Regions from separate parts of the Homo sapiens genome. Here region 2 is linked to region 1. The links come from fine-mapping of genetic effects on gene expression. A gene starts in region 1. The other region holds a variant in brackets. All regions are shown on one strand. Distances are between the middles of the regions.

The links. PIP is the estimated chance that this variant, and not a neighbour inherited with it, causes the effect. A credible set is the group of variants that fine-mapping cannot tell apart.
Region 2: its variant is the best candidate, but not a certain one, in a credible set for the expression of RNASEH2B in monocytes after LPS (Fairfax 2014, PIP 0.50).

Annotation. Positions count from the first base shown.
Region 1 is chr13:50,902,908-50,915,724 of GRCh38, reverse strand. RNASEH2B (ribonuclease H2 subunit B) reads right to left here and starts at 5,934. Exons shown (of 11, transcript NM_024570.4): 1 at 5,585-5,934. The coding sequence starts at 5,648. RNASEH2B-AS1 (RNASEH2B antisense RNA 1) reads left to right here and starts at 5,013. Exons shown (of 3, transcript NR_046552.1): 1 at 5,013-5,242. RefSeq lists an enhancer at 733-822 and silencers at 5,180-5,229, 5,440-5,679, 5,690-6,119.
Region 2 is chr13:50,877,221-50,890,037 of GRCh38, reverse strand. RNASEH2B-AS1 (RNASEH2B antisense RNA 1) reads left to right here. Exons shown (of 3, transcript NR_046552.1): 2 at 303-429; 3 at 7,393-7,660. Among named protein-coding and RNA genes, the nearest start is that of RNASEH2B, 26 kb to the left of the region's middle. The variant A/TTA (reference allele first, on the strand shown) is at 6,902.

The DNA.
Region 1 (12,817 bases):
TCATAAAGGTAGCTCTGAATAAAGGCCTGGAAATCCTACGTGACATGCTCTACTGTTTGGAGGTTGTGCTCTGAAGCAGAAGGCTGAGGTGCCCACACTGAGAAGCGAAATGGCCACTCAGGGAAAACACACTTGGACTCTCTCTAGCTCCTGGCATGTATTAGGTGTTCAATACATATTTATATAAAAATGGCACTTAAATGAATAATCATGATGAAATGTGTAGGTGGTCAAAGAGGTACCACGAACCTGGGCAGTAACAAGAGGAGAGACCCATGGGAAGGCTTCCTGGTAGAGGTGATACTTGAGCTGGGTTTAAAGGATAAGTAGGAATTTGCCAGGTAGATAAAGTGAAGAGCAGGCAGGATTCCAGGCAGACACAAAGTCAAGACGGAGAAGCTGAGCTGGAGCAAATGGCTTAGCTTTGTGGAAAATAAAGTTGAATGGAACCTTGAGGAAAGGGTAGAATTTGGATAGAAGTAGAAGGGGAGGAAAAAGCAGAATAAGCAAAGACATTGCAGGAAGAAATGGAATGTGAGACTTTTATTCGTTCAGTAAATATTTATTGAAATATCTACTCTGTCCCAGGCCCAGGGCTAAAAGCTTGAGGTGTAAGAAAGCTTATGAGTAACTCAAACCACAGATAACAACCCCATGAGACTGGTACTCTTCTCCCCACTGTGGAGATGACAAAAGTGAGGCTTTATAGTGAGGAAGTAAACCACCCAATGACACAGAGCTAATAAATAGCATAAATCTAGCTTTTAAGTCTGTGTTATTATAGCCAGGCTTTGGAGCACACTGACTGAGTTGTTTGTTTTTTAAAATCACAGTCTCAGAGGATGTGGGAGAATCCATGCAGTCCCTATTCTGTTACTCAAATAAAAAATCATGAACACTGCTTGCTTTCCTTTTATGAATTTTTTTCTGACCTGGAGGATAAATATGTGGGAGTCATGAGTTCTTACTTATAAATGTCCCAAGTATTTTGGAACAGTTACTAAAGGGACAAGATCAGACTCTGGAAACAGCCTGATTACACCAACTGGCAACTGAAGTCCATCCACTTCAGAACGTGCTCAGATAGATAGCAAGGGGAGCAGATCCAGTGGCCATCTGAGAAAGGTCAGTCGGGTCCCACCGAAAAACATTTTGCAAAAACAAAGCCAGACTGAGATTCATGTGGAAAATGTTAAACACGCTCTATGCTGGAAAACTCTGAGACTCCTACACTGCTGACTGCCTGCAGTAGACTATTCGGTAAATGACACATCTTCCAAAAAGCTGAGCTTAATTATTCCGAGGTTGTCTAAAATCAGCACTTGAATTGGCCAGGTTCTCTATCATGTGCCAAGTGAAGTTCATCTCTTCTGAAAATAAGGAAGCTTTCGGCCCTCACGTATATTTCTAAACACAAACATATACATACATACCGTTTTGACAAAGAACAAAAATCCTGCTTAACTTTTTCTTCTGAGATTAACCATGAGCCATTAGGTAAAGAAGGGAAAAGAGTGTTTTTTAGTGTCACTGAAAAGTCAGTTAAATCTATAGTAGTTCTTCCTTTGCCATACACTTTAAACCTTTACTTTTTTTCCTCCCCCAAAACAAGAGGCATTTCTTTGGACTTATAAAAAGCTACAATTATGCCAGTTGGTGGACCAAAAAAAAAAAAAAAAAATCTTCAAGACTGTAATCAGAAATAACATTAATATAAATTTTCTCCATCATTAAATAAGAAAATTAGTTTTTCCTTTTAAATTTATTTTTTAAATCCTTTAATTAGAACATAGTTCTAATGCATGAATTTATACAATCCTTCCACATCTATTTTTGCATTCCAATTGGAAAGATAGCTCTGGTATAATCATTTGTGATTATCACGATGCCTCACATAAAAAGCTGTTATTGTATTTGAAATGTCTAAGGTAGACAGGGATTCTTATCTCCCAAAAAGCAACCCATCCTCTACCTCCATGAAACTGCTTTCTGTGGAGAAATAAATAATAAGTGCAATCTTTCCTAAAATACTTTTTAACATGTATATTCATGAAATAAAGGGGGATAACTTTATTGCAAAACTTGTCTCTAACTGAAAATTCGAGTTGAGGTGCAGTTTCACCTCAGGACTGTTTAATCAGGGGGCTGATTAAGGAATATTTTAATCAGCCTAAGTGAACCCAAATGAGTTTTGTTTTAACAGGCCTGAAATGATTTTTCTTCTTTTTTTTTTTTTCAATACACAATGTTAGGGTTTCCCAATTAACATTTCCTTGGAGATGAACCCAATTAATTGTTCAGCCCCCAACAGCAATAAATGCAGTCTTCTAAACGCAATGAATCAGGTGACCTCTCACACCTGGGTACATCCCAACTTAGTAGCATTAACAAGAAAAATGGACTTAAGAAAAACATTAAAAATATGACTCAAACATTTACTTTTAGGGCAGAAAAAGAGGGATGGAAACTTATACTACTTTCCAAAAAGTAAAGTAATGGCCTCTTATAGAAATTAAAACTGCAAACAGGCTAGTATTCCCAGGCCATTTTACAGAAACATTTAAGACCATCCCAAACTAAAAGAAATGCTTGCCTTGCTGAAATGGGAAATGGTTCTGTCTTCACCAGCCTATGAAAACCAACGTCCCAAGTCTGCATATCTCACAGTATCTCTTCCAAGTTCCAGATTTGTTTATCTGAGATAGCCAGCTTCTCCAAACAAACTGAAAACTAGAGGCAAAGATACCTAAATCAAACATTTAAATATATCCTTCAAGATATAACACAGTGCTGTGGCAGGCAACTCGATGAACAGCATGAATTAAATGTTGGAAAAAAGTATCATTGCAAGGTTAGGCATCTTTACCCTTGTCTCACGGATAAATCCCTTTAAAGTTCTGTTGGCCTGTGGGTTCATGTGCTCACTTTTCAGTACACAAAGTAAGTTCTTCAGATCCCAAGTTTTCTAAAACCGAATACAAGCCGCCTCCGCCAAATACTTTTGAAAAATGTTTAATAATCTTTGTTTTCTTTATTAAGGGCCCAGCTTTACTGGAGTATGGTGCTCCCTCAGCCAAGGGCATATCGTTTCCAACTCCCGAATGGGTAACTAAGCAGGCTGATTTCTCATCTTCTGGAAAAGACGACAACTACATCTGGGAAGATGAGCCTCACACTCTGCACTTACATGCACTTCCTTGACCATATAAATTCTGGCCCACCACAAAGAGGGCCAAACATGAGGCTTGTCATTCTTATATCCCAATCTAGTTCCCAAAGTCTTTACTGCAGTGGTTCCTGGGGTGGGGGCAGTGGTTTCCGGACCAGCAGCATCAGTATCTCTTGGGAACTTGTTACCAATGCACATTCTCTGGCCCCAGCCCAGGACCTACTGAACCAGCACCTCTGGGAACTGAGGCCCAGCTCCCCAGGTAAATGATGCCCTCAAGTTTGAGAACTAGTGTTGCACTGCAGTCGCTGTCAAACCTTGTTGTACCCTCAGAGCCTGCAGGTGGCGCTAAAGGCCAGAAGGAAGAATTGCAGGAGCTGGTAGCTCAAGTTTTTAACTGTTAAGAGTTCCTGCCCCCCTGACCACACAGCTCTTTCTAGCAGTTCCAACAGCTGCTCAGCCTCCCCCAATGCCTTAAAAGGTCACAGTAGATCTCAGCTCTGAACAGAAACTCAACTGAAACTCTTCCCACAACCCAGCAGTAGATATATTAAAACCTACAATTTTCAGGGATACAATCAATATTTAATTCTTTTGAGGGTTTTGTGTTTAATACAAGGACACAAACACACGTATAAAATGACGATGTCAATACTGATTAAACAGAACAACAAAATAAGAAGCTCAAATTATCATCAGCTATTGTGTATATCTGAAATAACAATAATGCACTTGATTCTGAAAGAATGATTAGAGTTCCTACTCTGAAAATCTAATTGTCTTGATGTGACGAAGTGAGAAGAAAGGATGATTTTTCTAATGAAAAGCATGTATACGGGTAGCCCTTTGCGAGATTCTGTCAAAACCCTGAATTTTGCATTAGCTGTTTTACCACCCAAACGTTTTTACCGAGGATGTGCAGCAATGGGAACTCTCATACACTGCTTGTGGGAATATAAATCAGTATAACCACTTTGGAAAACCATTTAACATTGTCAACTACAGCTCTACACACAAGTACTAGAACCAGCCATTCCACTCCAGGGTATACACCCTAGAGATATGAGTGCCCATGTCTACCAAAAGCCGCCTAAAGGAATGCTCTGAGAAGTGTAACTTGTAATAGTTGCAAACTGGAAACAACCCAAATGTCCATCCACAGTAGAGATACATAGTATGGATACTCATACAATTAAACAGAAGCAGCAATGAAAAAACTAACCAACCAACCAAACAACTGCTACAACATGAATGAATTTCACAACAAGGATGAATCTTTCAGAGTGAAAGAAGCCAGACACAAAGGGTACACTCTTATTCAAACAGGCAAAACTAATCTCTGGTGACAGAGGTCAGCATAGAGGTTCCTGGGGCTATCTAGGAACAGGCATGAGGCGTTATTGGAAACAGTCTACATCTTGAACTGGGGGATGGTTACTAGGGTGGTGTATACGTATGAAAAGTTCAGTGAGTTGCATACTTAAAATCCGTACACTTTATGTATGTTTTATTTTTAGAGGCAAAAAATATTATTGACAGCCTGTCATGTAAACATTTTCAATAACCATCATAAAACTCTAAATTCCTGGGAAAGAATATTGTTATCAGAGTATATTTACTGCCACAAACACTGCATTTGCTGAGCTAAAGTCAAAACTTAATACAGGGAACAGGAGATGTTCCTTTTTTCCAATGTTACATATATAAAAAGACCAAACCTTTCTGGCTTGCACTCCCTAGGCCAAATTCCTTTAACTGTGTCATTTAATCGGTCCTTCCTTGTGTGGCACTGGCTGTCCACTGTCCCAAGCCCTCGCATGTCCTGGATGGCCGGTCATCATCCACACGGGGGCTGAAAGGCCCGGCTCCAGCACTCCTGTGGTCATCATCCTGCTGAATCGCTTTGAACTACCCTTGGCCTAACCGCGACTCCCATCCCGCTTCCCTCCTGCCTCGCCACTGCAGGCCTGTCCCTTTGCTTTCTTAAAACTGCGCACCGTCTGAGGCCACTTCGAGCCTACTGGATCCCTGGTTCCAACCCAGTAGGATCACAGAAGCAGGGCCAGCTGCCAGGTAGGGGACACCAAGGGCAGAAACCTCCGGGGCCCGCAGCGCACCGGTGACCGCGAACCCGCGTGGCTCCCCTCAGGCTGAGTCGGCTTCCACCCTCCCACCCGAGCCACCGGGGATCAGGGCCCGGGAAACACGCTCGGTCCTTTTCGGCGCTTCCGGGTTTGAAAACCGCGGCTTGCTATGACGTGTGACCAAAATGCGGGGCCAGCTGTCCCAGAGAGAATCCCATCCCGCGCCGGGCCGGGTAGTGGGAGCCACCGGGGTGGGGGGCGGCGCGCCCGGGGTCGCGGGCCGCTCCGCCAGTTCTTGGGCCGACCCCGCCGCCCGGGCGCGCGTGTTTACCTGAAACCAGGAACACGTGCTGCCGGGCGCCAACCCCGTCCCCGCAGTCCACGCCAGCGGCCATGCCGCCCGCCTCTTCCGGGGCGCCGCAGGCTCAGCGCCGCGGGCCTCAGTCTCCCAGCCCCGCCGAAAATGGCGGGAGAAGGGTCTGTTCCGGGTGGCGCGGCGCGCTGAGGGACCGGCAGCGCCCGGGAGGAGGCCCAGGGACCGAATTTCGTTTCGTTTCCGAGACCAGCCTGCTGCTCGTGTTACGTTTTTAAATTTAGCGCCAGGCGAGGGGCTCTGAATGCCGGCCGGTGGCCGCAGGCAACGGGAAGGGGCCGCGGCCTCTCCCTCGCGGCTCCGCTAGTGGTAGGTGCTCATCGCGCGCCGCAGGGCGCCGAGTGACGCGGAGCGGGGCGGGGTCGCCGGGGCCCCGCGCTCTGTGGCTGCACCCAGCGGCCCTCCATGGTCTAGCCAGCGGGCTAGGATTGGGTCTGCGGGGTGTGTGCCCGGACAACGGGTGACGCCCGCCACACCCCCGGGGCCGGGGGACTCACCTGGAGCTAGTCCGTGTTAAGGACAATAGCAGTCACATCGGAATCCGAATGCAACTCTTAGCCATGGTCCTCAATTATTTGTGAATATATATTGGTCATCAGTTGCATTCTGTGTTGCTATTGATGTGAGAATATGTGTGCATTGTGAGCTACAAGGGATGTCCTCAATTTGGACTCCGTCCTCATCACTAAAAGAGGTGCACAGTTTTGGGCTCAGAATATGAATTTGTTGTTTTGGAGAACGCTGTATACTGAGTTAAAAACTTAGACATTTATTTAAAAAGTGATGTTTAAAAAGTTAGAGCCATGAAATTTGGGGATTTAAACTTTTAAAAATAACATTTTAATTGAAAAGTGTTGTTTGGTACATGGTTTTTAAGAAGAAAGTACATATTCCTTTCATACTTTAGAGAAAAGCACGGGCCAGGCGCAGTGGCTCAGGCCTGTAATCCCAGCACTTTGGGAGGCCGAGGCGGGCGGATCGCCTGAGGTCAGGAGCTGGAGACCAGCCTGACCAACAAGGTGAAACTCCGTCTCTACTGAAAATACAAAAATTAGCTGGGTGTGGTGGTGCACATCTGTAATCCCAGCTACTACGGAGGCTGAGGCACAAGAATCACTTGAACCCAGGAGATGGAGGTTGCAGTGAACCGAGATCCCACCACTGCACTCTGGCCTGGGCTACAGAGCTGGACTCTGTCAAAAAAAACAAAAACAAAAAAATCCACAAAAACCTATTTTTTTTTTTTTTAAAGAAAAGCATGATGTATCTCTTTTATCCCAGATCCCAGGGGTAACTGTTAACATTTCTTCTCTATTCTTGCAGAATTTTTCCATGCAAAAACAAGTTAATGTCTTATTTTTGCACAATTGAAAGAATAATATACATAACTCATGCACTTTGCTTTTCATGTTTAATCTTGAAGATAGTTAAATTTAGCAGCACTAAATTTATCTCGGCCCTCTGAAAAGGTTTTTAACTTCAAACCTGTTTCCCATGGGGTGAGACCAATACAGCTGCAGTTGATTGCAGGACACAGCTGGTGGAGAAGAGGCCTTTCTGGCTGAGGAAAGGCGCCTCTTGCCAGTTTTGGGGCAAGGAGCAGCAGATTGGTACTGCTCTGATCTTCCCTCTCCCCCAAAACGACTGTAGAAGATGCTGTGGTGTATAGCACAAATCCCCAGGCACACCATCGTCTTACTAACAGCTACAGGAGCACCCCATTATTCCTGTAGGATGGGATCCAAAACCCCCAGTGAAGGCCTAAAACCGCAAATAGTACCAAACCCTAATATACTGTTTTTTCCTTTGCATGTATATCTGTGATAAAGTTTAATTTGAAAATTAGGCCCAGTAAGAGATGAACAACAATAATAATAAAATAGAACAATTCTCACAGTATGCCAGCATCACTACTCTTGCAGCTACTAAGTGACTCATAAGGAGGGGACCTTCTGCAGTGTGGATCCGCTGGACAAAGGTAGAATTCAGGTCCTTTGCAGGACGAAGCTGGATGGTGCAAGATTTCTTCACACCACTCAGAACACTGTACAATTTAAAACTTACGAATTGTTTCTGGAATTTTTCGTGTAATATTTTTGGACCAAGTTCGACTGGGGGTAACTGACACCTTGGAAAGCGAAACTTCGAATAGGGGGAGCTACTGTACATGAGAAATGTTACCCATGATTCCCTTGCTCAGACATACATACCTGTTTCATTTTTCTCTGATCCTTTCTAGCCCTTGGCTGTATTAATGTATATTTTTGTGGTTGTTGTCACAATTTAGACTGTTTTGTCTGCTTTTCTCACTTAACATTGTCATAAGCATGTGCCCCTTCATATCGAGAAGTATCATTGTTAATGAAGGCATGATATTTAACACAGCTGGTGTACTAGGGTTAGTTATCCATTCCCTAGTGTGCAGTATTTAGGTTATTTCAAACTGTTATTATAAATAATGCTACCATGTGTATTGTATATGGGCTATGTATACAGCAGTTTGACACAGTGATTGGTGTACATATACAAACAGATGCTTTGTATCTAAAGAAAAAAATTTAGATGCAGGAAATTATTTTTAGCAGAATACCATGTAGGTAAATTTAAAAGGCACAAAGAACAACACGATGTAATTTACAAGGATACATGCATATTTAAGGCCATGTCAAGCACATAAAGAAATGGGTGTCTTTACATACATGTGGCCAACAAACATATGAAAAAAGTTCAACATCACTGATCATTAGAGAAATGGAAATCAAAACCACAATGATATACCATCTCATGGCAGTCAAAATGGTGGTTATTAAAAAGTCAAGAAACAACAGATGAGGCCGGGCACGGTGGATCACGCCTGTAATCCCAGCACTTTGGGAGGCCGAGGTGGGCGGATCACCTGAGGTCAGGAGTTCAAGACCAGCCTGACCAACATGGAGAAACCCCATCTCTACTAAAAATACAAAAAATATTAGCCAGGCGTGTTGGTGCGTGTCTGTAATCCCAGCTACTCGGGAGGCTGAGGCAGGAGAATTGCTTGAACCTGGGAGGCAGAGGTTGCAGTGAGCCAAGATCGCGCTATTGCACTCCAGCCTGGGCAACGAGAGCAAAACTCCGTCTCAAAAAAAAAAAAAAAAAAAAAGAAACAACAGATACTGGCAAGACTGGGGAGAAATAGGAACTCTTTTACACTGTTGGTGGGAATGTAAATTAGTTCAACCATTGTGGAAGACAGTGTGGTGATTCCTCAAAGATTTAGAGCTGGAAATACCATTTGACTCAGCGATCCCATTACTGGGTATATACCTAAAGGAATATAAATCATTTTATTATAAAGATACATGCATGTGTATGTTCATTGCAGCACTATTCACAATAGCAAAGACATGGAATCAACCCAAATGCCCATCGATGATAGACTGGATAAAGAAAATGTACACATACACCACAGAATACCATGCAGCCATAAAAAGGAATGAGATCATGTACTTTGCAGAGACATGGATGAAGCTGGAGGTCATTATCCTCAGCAAACGAATGCAGACGCAGAAAACCAAACACCGCATGTTCTAACTTATAAGTGGGAGCTGAACAATGAGAACACATGGACACAGGGAGGGGAACAACACACACTGGGGCCTGTAAGCGGAGGGTGGTCGGGGAGGAGATCATTAGAGAAAAGAGCTAATGCATACTGAGTTTAATGCTTAGGTGATGGGGTGATAGGTGAAGCAAACTGCCATGGCACACGTTTACCTATGGAACAAACCTGCACATCCTGCACATATACTCTGGGACTTAAATAAAATATGGGTGTCTTTAATATGGAGAGGAATGGGAGAAAGCATGGGTAAGGAATGAGGGGCAGGAGAAATTAAATGAGAGGCCCAGGCTCGTACGGGTAACGGTTGCTATACTCTGTGAATGAGAAAACAATGAACTCTGCCCTTTCTGTAAATAATTTCCTTTATCATTAAAAAAAATTATGTAAGTACCTTTTTGAAAAGGATACCATTACTGATAGGCTGACTCCAGATCCCTGTTGTCTTCAAGGTAAAGTCTAAGGTGCTAAGCTTTGAACACATGGCCCTTGAGATCCGGTCCTGGCTGGACTCCCCAGCTACAGTTCCCACCACCTATGTCGCTCTCCACCCAGTCCACAGTGTGGCCACAAGGAACTGCCTGTGGTTCTCTTCTCTGTCACATCTAGCACTTGGTATTGTGTCCCCAATGCTGAGACCATCCTGTTCTCCACAAGCATCATTCCTTCCCTTCTCCCTTACCCTTTACCACTGCCAGGACAACTCTCACTCATCCATCAGGTCTTACTAAGTGCCTTCTCTTCCTGCCTCCTAATACTCTTCCCAAGAATAAGTGAGATGCCTCCAATTTCACCAGTGAGAGGAACCAGTCAGTTCCTTGAGGGAAGAATAGCATCTAGTAATTCACCACTATCTTGTCAAAAAATAACAATGGCTTCACTGAGTATTAACTATGCTGAGCACTGCACTAAGCAGTTAACTCGAATGACCTCTTTCAGCCCTCCCACAGCATTAAGGGTAAGTATTATTTAGTCACCCACATTTTACAGAGGAAGAATGTAGAGTCGAGAGAGATCAAGTACCTGCCTATGATGACATGACTAGCAAGTGGCTGAGCAGGAATTCCAACCCAGGCCTTAGGACTCCAGAGACTGGGCTCTTCACCTTCCTTCCCTCCCTGGTGTCCCCATGCCTGGGACAAAATAATATGGAAACATAGCATGTGCTCAGCAAATATTTTTTGAGTAAATATTTATGCGGATAGCTAAGCTGTCGTGGCTTGTGGTATTCCCAATTTTATAAATCAAAACAAATTGATTACATCTAGTATATCATAAAACAGTCTGTGAATTACTTGCAGTACTAGTCTGTACTAGTTCTGTACAAAGAATAAGAAGGGAGCAGCAACTTAACACCTCTTGAGTAGAAAATTTGAGACTCTTCTAAATGCTGGAAACAATAGATGTTTGGTTTTTAGTAAAAAGAGAAAAAAGAAAAAAAAAACTGGGTGGGGCACGGGAGAAGAATTCAGTGCCAAATAACCTTCAGCAATGCTTAGTGGTAATTAGAGCAGACAGACATTGTATTAAAGGTAGTGGAAGAATATTTTCTCCTCTATATTATTAAAAATCTGTAAGATTGCTTCTTTCAAAACAAAATTAAAATTAAAATCCATGTTTATCATCATTTTTCTCAGGAGAAAAAGTTGTTCTCTTCTACCAAATTTTCCTGCCATCAAATGCTCATTGAGTGACAATAGAGAAAGCACCATCATCCTGAAGCATCAGATTGGGAGAAAAGTCCGCTCTCGAGAGCATCAACTATGTAGAAAGGGGACCAGTGAGTATGAGTAGCACTGAATCATTCTTTCTGGGAAGAATATTCCCTTTCTGTTCTCTCGTAACCAACCCAACCTAAAACTGAACTGTACTTGGCAGTGTGAAAAAAAGGCACACATAAACTTGTGAGATCTGCCCATCGTAGCATAAGAATGACTGAAGCTATTGAGGAAGGAAAAAGGGCAGCACCTGACACCCAGAAGCTGGCCTGGCTCTCATAGGCAGACCCTGCGATTCTCCCATTAGACATGAACCATCTCACAGAAAACCAGCCTCTGACCGGGCTACTTTGAGACCATGATTAAATAAGACCATTCATAATTTTGTGTGAGCACAGACAAAAGCAAGTCACTTTGCCACCCATGAAGTACCAAACATCCTATCTCTTGGCCAAAATGAGTGCTCCTTCTTTACCAATGACAACTTTATTCTCACTATAGTTTCCCCTTCCTATAAGAGTAAGTGAGATCTCCCATTACAGAAGTGCTCCACTTTCTAACAGCATCCAATCTAGAGGGAATCCCCGCTGCCTTAGACTCTACCTCAAATCACTCAATCAAAGCCCAAATCCTATAAGGTCCTTTCTAACACCCTCTTACTGAAACACCCATGATTTCCGTGATGTGTGTTCTTCCTTGCTGCAACAAGTAATGAACCAAACTTGTTCAACTACAGGTGACTTCCTGGCTTCCTTGGCTGAAGAGTATTGGTGCTATGTTTACACATTTCCATATGTGTATGTGTGTGTATATAGTTATAAGTGTTACATATATTTATATAAAATCAAGGTAGCTAGAAATTCAGGTAATTCAAGCTCCAAAGTATACTTTTCTGGCTGAAGTATCTGTAGAGATAGACTGCCAGAATTAAATAAATCAGATAATCAGATAATTACACATTTTGCTGCCTGGCACCCTAGCAACCATCACACAATTCATATAATCTTAATAACTTGATGTCCTAGTTATCATCACCTAATTTGCTTTTACATATGCTATTAATATTTTCTACAATGCAGTGTGTTTGAGATTTTTTTCAAGCTATGCATTTTTTAACATGATAATAAATGGGGAAACCAAAATTTTAAAAAATTGTTTTTTGAAGCAGGATATAAACTTTTATAGAAAATATGATCACAGTTAAAAAGAATAATAAGAATAAAAGGGTGGTTACTAAAGTCTAACCATAGTTGCACTTGAATCACTTCAACTGTGATATATTTTCTAAAATTTTTAGTATTTTTAATTTGATGGTGGAAATACTATTAATTTCTGGCTTCATTTTACCCTGTTCTTCCTCTTAGGTGCCTAAACAATGATATCCTGATTCTCTTTTGGTAAATCTTAATTACTTTTACCAACAGTCTCTACAATTAAGAGGCTTAAGGAGACACATTACTAAAATCAAAGCTGTTCATATCTGCTGCTTTCTCACTATAAGTAAAATACTCTTCAAATAGTAATAAGATATTTTATTAATTCAGTCTAACAAAACATCTGTAAAACAGGAAATGCAAGTACTAAACATGGTTTGTTGCTTGCCAAAGATTAACAAATTTTTCTGGTAATGTGAGCATTTCACCCAATGTTTTGCTTAAGAGCAAAAATAGGTAATATTGACTGAGTATTTAAAGAGAAAGTGTTGTAACTTCCACAGAATAATGTCAATTTCATGTTGACTTTTGCAATTATATTGATCATGCAAAAGCAACATTTCTGAAAACTTAGTCTTCTTCATTTGTTCACTAAATATCTCTAATTCTTTGATAATATAATTCAATTAATAAACAGATTATCCTTTAAAAGTGCTTATAA
Region 2 (12,817 bases), 26 kb after region 1:
TGAACACGGCTCACTGCAGCCTCAACCTCCCAGGCTCAAGCAATCTTTCCACCTCACCCTCCTGAGTAGCTAGGACTATAGGCATGTGCCACCACACCCAGCTAATTTTTTCTTTAAATTTTTTTGTAGAGAGAGGGTCTCCCTATGTTGCCCAGGCTCAAGATGGCCTTCTAATGGAGCCAATATCTATCTATTCATTCAACATATTGCAAATAAACTTTGGAAATAAACCAGTTATATGAAATAAAGAAGTAAATAAATTATTAAATAAATGGCCTTACTTTATTCTGTCTCCTCTGCAGGCTTCTGCAAAAGACTTGAGACAGCTCACAATGAAGTACTCTGTATTAGGCAGGGTAATATTGATTGCAAGTGACAGAAACCCAATCAGAAACTCACTGGAGTCATGAGGAACACTTATTGGCTCAGGTAACCTAACCCTTGAATGGGCAGGGATGTATCTGGTTTGGGAGGAAATAGTACCAGGTGCTGAAAGTAGCTGTCTCAGACTCTGGTCTGTCTTTCTGTGTCACATTCTTTCACACCTTGGAGGTTGTGGTCATCTGGCTTATCACTGGTCAAGAAGATGCCTCCTTCATTAGTTCCTTGATTTCAATTTGAAATAATGCTGGTCAAAGACTCTGGCCTTCAGCAAAGACCATGGCAATGGTCTGAGAGTGGCAGAAGGCAGAGGTTGACTGCATTACTAAAACGACAAGGTTGGAGTTGGGACAGGTGGGGAGAAGGGTTTATCTAAAAGAAGGTGCTGCTGCTATCAGAAGAGGGAGTGTTTGGGCTGGGGGGACAAAATAAAATATGTCCACAACAGATACATCAATAGAATCATTAAATAAAGCTGGATGGGATGGAAATGAGCAGGGTTCGTTGTGTAAGAGAACCTAAATTAATTATGGTAGCTTCAGTTTAGCTCTCACGTATGTGAAAGTCAAGGTAACATAGAGAAACAGATCATTTATAAACAAAAGGAAGCAATCATTTTCCTATGTGTAAACTCTACTATGATACTTAAATAGGTTTACAGGAGTCATTCAGTGGACAACATCTTCCATAGTGATTTTCAAAAAAGATGCAAACAATTTTTATTCTGTCATATCTTATATCAAAAATTATATTTAGAGCATATTACCTCATATTTCTTTTAGGTCTTCATGGTGTATTTAGGATGATAAATAAGGTGTATCTGGGGAGATAAATCCAGGTATATAGCTTTCAGATGATCAAACCTATTAGCATAACATCCAATTAATGGACTATTAATGATACCATATTTTTATCAATGTGTAAAGGTTATGTTTGCTCCCATTTTGAACTTTTTGTTCAGTGTAGATGACTGGAATGATCATGTTATGTGACGCTGTGTTGAAGAGAGTCACTGAGAAAGAGGTAATGTCAAGTAACAGGGAAAGTAAGAAATGACTGGAACACACTGGGACTTTGCCATAAACATAAGAGACAGGCAGTCAGAACAGTAAAGAATTGTACTCAAGTTGTTTGAGTACAAACTGTTTGACACTGTGACACTGTGATAGGGAAACCAAATAGTGTATTCATTGGCAATGTCTTTTATGGATACCAGGAGATATTGTTAGTCAGCTGTAGTGCAATTATTGTTGATTGGTATATTCTTAATTCACTGAATCCTTTGAATTGTGCTACTCCAAGTTCTAGTAAATACTAGAAAGTATTTACTACTCAAGTATTCTAGTAAACACTAGAAAGCATCCAGCATATTCCAAAAGACCGAGAGTCGTTGACTTAGTAGACAATGAAAATTGTTACCTTAATTGAACTAACTTCAAACTGTATGTGCTGTATCTCTGGGGGCAGAGGAGAGAAGAGTGACTCCATCACAGTCAGGTAGTTCCAAATGTATCTGTTGTGCATATTTGACTTGTCCATAATTGCCTTTTAAAAGAAATTGTCTTTAACCCAAAACAAAACACCTTGAAAATCAGTCTTAGACTGTTGCTTTTAATTTTCTAATATCTCTTAGTATTCCTAGACTTTCAAAATTGTTCTATTAAGGAAATTCTCAAACATCCAAAAGTAGAAAGACAGTATAATGAACCCCATTGACACAATATTCAAATTCAACAATTTTTAACATTTTTCTTGGTTTTTAAAAAATATTTCACATAACTGATCCAAAGGAATTTTTTTACACATAATGTCGCCATAGAATGTTAGACTCTTTTTATTAAAAAAAAAAAACTGATTATAAATATTTGCACATTTATAAGAGGAGTTTTCAGGAATTTGACAGGGCACACCTAGAACCACCGGGGTGGTGCTCAGGACCCACCAGGTACACCAAGGACCCACCAAGCACAGGTCCAGCCCCAGTTGTCCATCTTGCTTTATCTATTATTCACCTTTTTTGATGTCATATTGTTTTATCCATAATTAAGTCAGTAGTATATAAATCGAACAGATGAGCATTTTTAAAAACCACAAACCCACCATTCCATTATCATACCTGACAAAATTAACATTAATTCTATTATTTCACCTATTACGCAGTCCGTGTTCAAATGTCCCCAATTTTCTCAAATATATTTTACAGTCCTGTTGAAATCACAGAGTAAAGTCCACAAATTGCATTTGGTTGAAATGTCTCTTAGGTATTTTCTAATCTATGAAAGTTCCCACTTCCCCATTTTTAGCCGTTTTTTTGTTTGTTGAAGACATTGGTTCATTTGTCCTGTAGAACTTCCGGCATGCCAGATTTTGCTGATCGCATTCTCATTCAACCCATTAATCTAATAACTTGTTCCTTTGTATTTTTCATGAGCTTGCTGCCTGAGTGTGAAGCTTGCTTAGATTCAGATGCATTTATTTTGGCAAATACTCCATAGGTACTATCGCGTGTTTCCGATTGCATTCCATCAGGCGGCACATGAGGTCTCGTGGTCCCATTTTTAGTACTGTTAACACTGATCAAGGGTTAAGTGTTGTCATCTAATCTACCCTTTCACTAGTGTTTTCCTGAGCCTCTGACAGATGCTTCATTGAAAATGAGGTCTGGCGTGCCCATCCAGTGGAAGCATTTTGAGTTTTTTATTGATTCTTAAATGTCCTTTCTCATGGAAGCCTTCCATGTCATCCAATTAAAATGGCAACTCCTCACTCTCTATTGGCTTTCTCTGCTTTTTTCCTTCCTCCATGGAATGTATTAGTATTTCCATCTTCTATAAACACATTACTTATTTCCCCCAACCATTGTGTATGCTCCACAAAGACAAGGATTCTTTTTTTTTAATTAGTAGACTTTATTTTTTAGATCAGTTTTAATTTTAGAGAAAAATTGAGTAGAAAGTACATAGAGTTTCCTTAATGCCCTTTCCCATCTCACCCTAACCCCCCTAAATTTCCCTTGTTATTAATATCTTGCATTAGTGTGGTACATTTGCTACAACTGATGAACTGATCTTTATGCATTATTATTAACGTAAGTTTACTCTTTGTTTCGTACAGTCTTATGGGTTTTGGCAAATGTATAATGTCATGTATCCATATTACAGGATCACATAGGTGATCCTAAAAAATCCCCTGTGCTCCACCTATTCATCCCTCTTCCCTCCATCCCTGAACCACTGGCAACTTCTGATCTTTTCACTGTCTCTATAGTTTTGCCTTTTCTAGAATGTCTTACAGTTGGAATCATACAGCACGTTGTCTTTTCAGACAGGCTTCTTTCACTTAGCAATATGCCTTTAAATTTCCTCCACATCTTTTTGTGGCTTGACAGCTAATTTCTTTTCATTACCATATCATATTGTATTGTCTGGATATATCACAATTTAGTTATTCATTCACCTACTGAAGCCATCTTGGTTGCCTCTAAGTTTTGGTAATGATGAATAAAGCTGCTATAAACATTTGTGTGCAGGGTTTTTTGTGGACACACATTTTCAACTCATTTGGATAGACACCAAAGCGTGTAATTGCTGGATTGTATGGTAAGACTACGCTTAGCTTGTAAGAAACTGCTAGACTGTTTTCCAAAGTGGCTGTACCATTTTGCACTTCTACCAGCAATGAATAAGAGTTCCTGCTGCTCCACATCCTCACCACCTTTAGTGAAGTTTCTGTTTTGATCTTTTGCCCATTTTTAAGTTGCATCGTTTGCTTTCTTAATGCTGTTTTAAGAGTTCTCTTCATATTTTTGATATAAGTCCTTTATCAGATGTGTTTTGTAAATATTGTCTTCCACTCTGTGACTTGTCTTTTCATTCTTTTAACAGGGAAAGTAGAACTTTTTAAAAATCTGTTTTGTTTTCTGTCTTATCTCGAGTGCCTAGAACAGTGCCTAGTTTATAATAGCTGGTCAATCTAGTGAATGCTTGCTGAAAGTGGTCTATATGCCTTAGGTACAGCTAAGAACAAAGTTGACACTTGATTGTAAAAACTAAAGAGCTGATCCAATTGGAGGACTATTTCACTCTTCACAGAATTAAAGCTTTCATTGACCAACAGCTGTGATTTTATCAAAACATTCATAAAATTGAAAGTCTTTCTTCCAAATTGGAGGTAGTCTTAAAATAATCTAATTTATTTTACAGTTAAGACCCTGAGCCCTATTCACAGAATGTCAATCTCTGCTCTCCCAATGACCACTTAAGGCCTAACAGAATGACTCTCAAGTTCTTATTTCTCTGAGACATATTCTCTAATATTTTCTTTTAGGGTTAAATAATGAAGTATTCAGACATAGAAAAGTACAAAAATAATCACATATTCCTATCTTCACCGTATCATAATATTGAACTGATTTTTACATTTTGTCATGTTTGTTTTAACTCTCTCTTCTCCTCCCATCTTTCTTGGAATAAATATTAAAGGAATGGCTGAAGCCTCAGATACCTCATCCCTACCTCCGTCTCTACCTCCATTTTCCCTCATTAGTACCCATGATGGTGAAATTGATGTATAATTCCCATACAAGTGTTTGCAATTTTTAATGTATTTATATATACATAACTAGCGTATTGCTTTTTGTGTGTTTGTAAAATGACACAAATATTATATTAATACTAATCAGATCATTCTGGGTGGTAGACACTGTGGCATGGCCCACCAGATCTTCAGGACAAGGCACTTGCTCCCTCATTTGGAGATGTAAGCTTAGAATAGCTTCCAGTTGAATCTCTCACCAAGAATTCCCTTTGGCCATAAGCCTTGCCCAAAGTCACACACCCTCCCTACAAGCATCCACTGACCATTGACTGGGAGAGGGGATAGGGCATTTATGACATTGGAGTAGGGAAGTATTTATTAAATAAGATTTTAAAATATAAATCACAAAACGAAAATGAACTTGAATATCTTAAAATTTAAAAAATACCTCTGCACAATAAATGAAATTATATAGTGAAAAAGCAAGATACAAACCAGTATATTTGCATAGCACATACAGTTATTAGTAAATAAACAATTCCTATTCCTTCTTCAATAGGAAGATCTGGCCTTCTTGCCTCAACTCAGGGCTACTCTAAAGGGAGATCCCAGCTCCAGAGCTCCCCACAGGCTTGACTGAAGCCTCTGCTGCAACTACACTGTGGTTTAACTTCTCCCTCTGCCAGTCTCGCTTTCCTCACTCCTTGCAGGGTTTTGTTTTGTCATTGTTCTTGTTGTTTTGTTTTGTTGTTGTTGTTGAGACAAGGTCTTTCTCTGTCACCTAGGCTGGAGTGTACTGGTGCAATCTCAACTTACTGCAACCTCCACCTCTCAGGCTCAAGCAATCCTCCCACCTCAACTTCCCAAGTAGCTGGGACCACAAGCGTTTGGCACCATGCAATGGCTAGTTTTAAATTTTTTGTAGAGATGTAGTTGCACAGTATTGCCAGGCTTGTTTCAAACTCCTGGGCTCAAGCTATTCACCCACCTCAGCCTCCTAAGGTGCTGGGATTACAGTCATGAGCCACTGTGCCCAGCTCCTCGCAGGTGTTAATCCTGAAGACACTCCCTAATAAACTTTCTGTATGCTTCTCATGGTCACAGGGTCTGTTTCCTAGGGAATCTGAGCAGTGGCATTCTGCAACTTGCTTTTAACACAGATCATTTTCTAAAGATTTTTCCATGTTGACTTGTATCCAGTACCCTTATTCTAACTGCTACATGGTATTCTATTCTATGGTAAGCCACACTTTATTTATCTAGTCACTCATCAAGTTAGGTTGTTAGTCCTTTTATATACTTACAAAAGTGGTACAATGAATGCCTGTGTCTATTTCCATTTTACACATACTGGAGACATTCTCCAGGATCTGTAACTAGAAGTGGAACAACCTAGATTGTATGTTATGTGTGTTATCATCTTTATTAAGTGATGCTAAATTGTTTGTCAAAGTGATTATAGAAATTTACTCTTTACTAATGATTTTTAAGAGCTCTTCTTCTCCCACATTCTTACCAATATTCTGTGTTGTCAGATTGAAATGTTTTCTTTGCCAAGCCAATGAGTGTAAAGTGTCAACTTAATGTTGTTTTAGTTTTATCTGACAGCTAATGAGATTAACCAATTTTTCACGTTTATTGGTTATTCAAGTTTCTCCCATAAATTGCCTACTCATATTATTTGCTCATTTAAAAAATTAGGTTATTACATTTTCTCATTAATTTGTTGGAATTGTTTATATACTAATAATTGTATGTGCTATGTAATATGCAAATATACTAGTTTGTATCTTGCTTTTTTGCTATATGATTTCATTTATTGTGCAGAGGTATGCTTTAAATTTTAAGATACTCAAGTTCCTTTTCTTTTTGTGGTTTATGTTTTAAAATCTTATGTAATAAGTACTTCCCCACTCCAATGTCATAAAGATATTATTTTCTTTCTTCCGAACTTTTACAATATTGGTTTTTTTTTTTTTTTTTT[A/TTA]CATTTAGGTCTTTTATCTATCTGAATAGCCCATTTATCCAAGACTACTAATTTCTTTTTTTTTTTTTGAGACAGAGTCTCGCTTTGTCATCCAGGCTGGTGTTCAGTGGCGCAATCTGGGCTAACTGCAAACTCCGCCTCCTGGGTTCTAGCAATTCTCCTGCCTCAGCCTCTCAAGTAGCTGGGATTCTAGGCATGCACCACCACACTCAACTAATTTTTGTAATTTTTAGTAGAGACAAGATTTCCCTATATTGGCCAGGCTGGTCTTGAACTCCTGGCCTCAAGTAATCTGCCTGCCTTGGCCTCCCAAAGTGCCGAAATTACAGGTGTGAGCCACCACACTTGGCTAAGACTACTAATTTCTAATGCTGCTTCTGTCATATACCACATGTGTATGTATTAAAGTTGTTAAGTTTCTAGACTTGTCTTTGGTGTTCTGAAGTTTCACTATATGTCTAGCTATGATCTTTTTTTTTTTTTTGTTCAAGAGTAAAGGCAAAATAGACCTTCAGAGAAATAAAGTCTGGGAAATTGACTAGATCCTCACTGAAAGAACTACTAAAGGATGTACTTATGGAAGAAGAAAATTACAAAGTGAAAGAACTGGGATGCAAGAAGTAATGGTGAGCATGGAATTTGGCAAAGATTCAAGTAAAACAAAGCAAGGACTGAGTATATAAAATCATAATCATAACAAATTTTGACTATTATATGTAACAGCCAATCTCTTAACTGGGTCATAATAAGAAAGTGAAAGGCAGAAAAAATGACAAAAAGAATAATTAGAATGTTAATAAGAAGAGTAACAAGATTTTGAAAAATTTGTGCTGGTTGATATCAACTTTTGGCACTTTTCTCTTTTTCTATACTGTTAACATAATTAATGAAAAAATAATAATTCATACTTCAAAAAATTTAAGAAGTTGCACATATTTTCATTTGAAATAGTATAAGCATTTTACAAATGTTATTTTAAGCTTTAAAAAGTGAGTAAAATTAATAACCAAATGGTGGAAGCAACCCAAGTATCCATCAATAGATGAATGAATAAACGAAAGGTAGTATGTTTATACAATGGAATATTATTCAGCCTTAAAAAGGAAATTATGACACATGCTACAACATGGGTGAGCCTTAAGGACATTATGCTAAGTGAACTAGACCAGTCACAAAAGGGCAAATACTATAGGATCCACTTATATGAGGTAATTACAGTAATGAAATCATCGAGACAGAAGGTAGAATGGTGGTTGCCAGGAGCAGGGGTAGGGGAAAATGAGAGTTATTGTTTAGTAGGTACAGAGTTACAGTTTTGCAAGATGAAAAAGTTCTGGAAATGGATGGTTGTGATTGGTGCACAACAATGTAAATGTACTTAATGTCACTGAACTGTACACTTAAAAATGGTTAAGGCGGTTCTTTTTTTGTTATATGTATTTTAACTTTAAAAATAATACTTTTAAAATGTGAGAAAAATATCCTTGAATCTGTTTTATGTTAGTGAGTGAAAGCATCTCTAAGAAGAGAGTCAATTACTTTGTCAAGGCAGTCCCCAGCCTTTTTGGCACCAGGGACCTGTTTCGTGGAAGACAATTTTTTCATGGATTGGGTGGGGGGTGGCGGTTTTGGGATGAAACTGTTCCATGTCAGATTAGATCATCAGGCATTAGATGAGAGCACAACCTAGACCCCTCACATGAGCAGTTCACAATAGGGTTCATGCTCCTCTGAGAATTTAATGCTGCCCTTGATCTGACAGGAGGCAGAACTCAGGTGGTAATGTTCACTCACCTGCCACTCACCTCCTGCTGTGCAGTCTGGTTCCTAACAGGCTGTGAACCAGCGGTACTAGTCAATAGCCTAAGAGTTGCGGACCCCTGCTCCAAGACACCAAGCCCACAGCACATCTGGTGGGGTCAGACATGACCCTTACCCTTCCCTCCCACACCCCTGTCCCCAGCTTCTCATTTCATGGGCCCTATTCACTGGAGCCAGTTTGTCTAATAACTCCAGAATCTGTGCTGCCTCTCAATTAGCACTCCAAGTTTTGGGTCAGGCCCTCATCATTTCTTACTTTGATCAACACATTAAAATCCTGGCCAGTCTCCCTTTTACCATCTATCCTCCACTCTGCAAGCTGAATGATCATTCAAAAGCATGAATCTGTTAAAAAGAAATCAAAAGAAGGAAAGAGGAAGAGATAGTGGTTAGTGACGTGAAATGAAGCAGAATAGTCAAGGAGAAAACGTAGCCTAGAAACACTTATGGATTGGAGTCTTTCAGGAGAAAAGAGTTAGTAAAGTTGTGGAGACGGAGAAGCCAGATAACAAGGAGTGAGAAGAAAGTGAAGAAACTAATATAAAATTGCCTGTTCTCCTGGCATTATCTTCCCCATTTGTTTGCCTGGCAAACATTTAGTCTTTAAAATCCAATCCAATGTCATCTTCTCCACAGAGTCTTCTTTAATATCTGCAGGCAAAGTTAAGAGCTTCCCTTGCAATACACCAGCGTGCCTTGTTCATGCTTTTACTACGGAATTTATTACATTTCTCTAATTATTTGTTTTCATCATTTTCTGTCACTAGACTGTGAGCCACTGGGGAAATACACTATTTTCTATTTCTCTTTATACCCCCAGTTCCCAACATGATGTGAACAACATCTGTGCTGGTTGAATGAATGAATGGTGTTGAAAGCATCTACATCAGGGGTGTCCAATCTTTCAGCTTCCCTGGGCTACACTGGAAGAAGAATAATTTTCTTGCACCACATATAAAATACACTAACACTACTGATAGCTGATGAGCTAAAAAAAAAAAATCGCAAAAAAATCTCATGTTTTAAGAAAGTTTATGAATTTGTGTTGGGCCACATCCAAAGCCATCCTGGGCTGCATGCAGCCTGCAGGCCATGGGTTGGACAAGCTTGACTACAGCTTTAAAGTGATCTTAATCTAATCAATTCTTCCCCATTCAGAAGAAACCTACTACATCAGAGTCTATTGAGAATCTATCTCCCTAATCACCCTCAGGCACAGGGTTATTATGTATTGATATCATACACACTAAAAAATTCCATCATACAGGTCTAGAAATACTTCCATAATACAGTAATATTTTAATAGAGTCATAACACACAGACAGCCACCCATTCTGCCTGTAGCCAGTCATGGAGCAATACATTTTGTACATAACCTGTAATTTCTTCTGGAGAGTGTAATTACAATGCCAATATGACATTTTATTTTTATTATTATTATTTAGTTAGTTAGTTAGTTACTTTTTGAGACAGAGTCTCACTCTGTCGCCAGGCTGGAGTGCAGTGGTGTGATCTCGGCTCACTGCAACCTCTGCCTCCCGGGTTCAAGTGATTCTTCTGCCTCAGCCTCCCGAGTAGCTGGGACTATGGGTGCCCACCACCACACCTGGCTAATTTTTGTATTTTTAGTAGAGATGGGGTTTCACCATGTTAGCCAGGATGGTCTAGGGGTTGATAAACTACAGTGCACAGGCCAAATCTGGTTTACTGCCTGATTTTGTAAATAAAGTTTTATTGGAACACAGCCTTGCCCATTTATTTACTTATTGTCTCTGACTGCTTTCATGCTACAATAGAGTAGTTGCAACAGAAACTATAGTCTGCAAAGCCTAAACTATTTACAACCTGGACCTTTAGAGAAAGTTTGCTGACTCTTTTTTTAATGGATAAACTAAAAGTATGTAAGTAAACATGATTTCATGTCTTATGATATGTCAGGTGAATGGTACAATCCTTTGGTTTAAGTTCTTAGTATTATACCTAAAGTATATCTACCATGAAATGCATTTTCCACCTTTCATAGTCTCAGCTGGTTAATCAAAATAAATGGATTCTATGGCATAATTCAGGATGTTACCATTTTTGCTTTTTAGATCAGCTCTTCACCCACTGTTTTCCTGTCATACACATGGTGTTCTTAAAATTGTAAATGAAAACTCATTTGAACTTACATTAGTAACTTCTGTTAAATTATACTGGATTGCTTATTAAGTAAGCATTATTATCCACATTAAATCTGTCACAGATGAAAAAATTACACATAAAGGAGACTGCTTGAGGCCCCAGGGCATGCTGTAATATACATAGAGGCTCCTGAATACTTGGTTTTCCATGTGGATCTCTGATTTTGCTGAAAGAAGTCTGTAAACTGATGTAGTCAGACAGCTCCCCACTGGCTACACATCTCTATAGAATTTAGAAGCATTGTTTATTTCAGCAGAGGTCTGGAATGAATTTTCCTTATAATTTAACTCCTGAAATGACTGTTTCAAAAGGTCAACTGTGGTGAACTTGCATATGTGACTTGCAGTCACAGCTAAGTCACGATCCCTTAGTTTTTCCAGAAGTCCACTAGAACGTTAGCTCCATGGCACTGTTATCTTGCATCTCCAGGTCCTGAAACAGCCCTTAGTGCATACTAGGTATTCAATAACTTTTTTTTGAATAAATGTTTTATGTAAATTCCATCACAAATATGGAAGATCTTAGAGGGGATTTTTGAAAACCAAAGAAAGTTGAAACTCCTTCACATGGAGTTTGGATGTTGAACTTAGAGGCTTGACTTAGCCATTTTTAAAAAACGAAATGTGTGTGTATGTTTATTTAAGGTACCTTAGTGACAGGTACAACCTACAGCCCAAAGACAATGTACAAAACCCAATGAGGGGACAAGCCTCCACTCTTTTATAAGATGCAGAAATTTGCAGGAGTCTATCACTCTTACTCTAACCATGAGAACAGACCAGAAGCACTACAAATGACAGTTTTATTTGTTGTTGCTTTCATTTGCATGTTTCACACTCATCAGAGAACCCAGGAGCCAAAAAAAAAAAAAAAAAAAAGAAAAAAATCCCTCAAATTAACTACATTTCCAAAAGGATCAAGCTCTTCCTAGAGAGAAGAGTCCCACAGCTGCTTTTGTTCCTAGGGACATGTTGGAAGGAGCACAGAAGAGGAAGGGAGAAACCAGCCTATCTTTAAACAAATTTTGGATGATTGTATATGGGTTGGCATAACAGAGTAGAATCACAAGGTACCCCAGGAATAGAACTAGTCTGTACCCACCCAGCCTCCATTGAGTGGATGGGAGTCGTACACTGAAAGCTGGTGCCAGGGTAGGAGAACTGAGAAATACCCTCCCCAGGTACACCAGGTCTTCCCAAAGTACAAGAAAGTAGCCCACTGAGCACAGGAAGCAAGGCAGGAGAAGCAAGAGGGATTCTCCAAGGCATGTGAGGTTCATCCATTGCAAGGCAGTCCCCATTACACACTGGGGGTAAGGCAGGAAAGCTGAAAGAAATCCCCTCCTAGAAAGCACGAGGCTTTCACCAAATGCAAGGCAGCAGCCTGCAGTAGCCAGAGGCAAAGCAGGAGAACTGAGAGAAATAGATGCTCCCGAAAACCCTTTCAACTCTCCAATCCCCTCAACCCTACCCACCCACCTCACCCCTACCTCCACCCTCCCTACACAAGGTCTCTACTGAGTACATTGTAGCCACCTATTGAATGCTGGAGGAAGAGCTATCTTAAGGCTCTGAGATGTGGAGGCAGAGTTTAGGCAAAGAAAAGGCCCCAGCAACCCAAGAAGTTGGTGGCTGGGCTGTAAGGCATAAAGAGAACTCCCACAGTTTGGAAAGTTGGGGGCTGGGCTGTGTGAAGCTTGGAGAACTTTCCAGAGTCTTACTGTCTCTAGGATTCCAAGATACACTGAGAGAAAAGTACTGATTCTACTTTTCAGATATTAAAACCAGCCATGAACTGAATCACAATAAGCTGTGACAAAGCTCAGACCCAGCCCAACTACACAGAGATCAGATGGGCCCTGTCTCCAATCACAGGGGACTGACAGAACCAGGGCTTTGCCATTTTATAGGC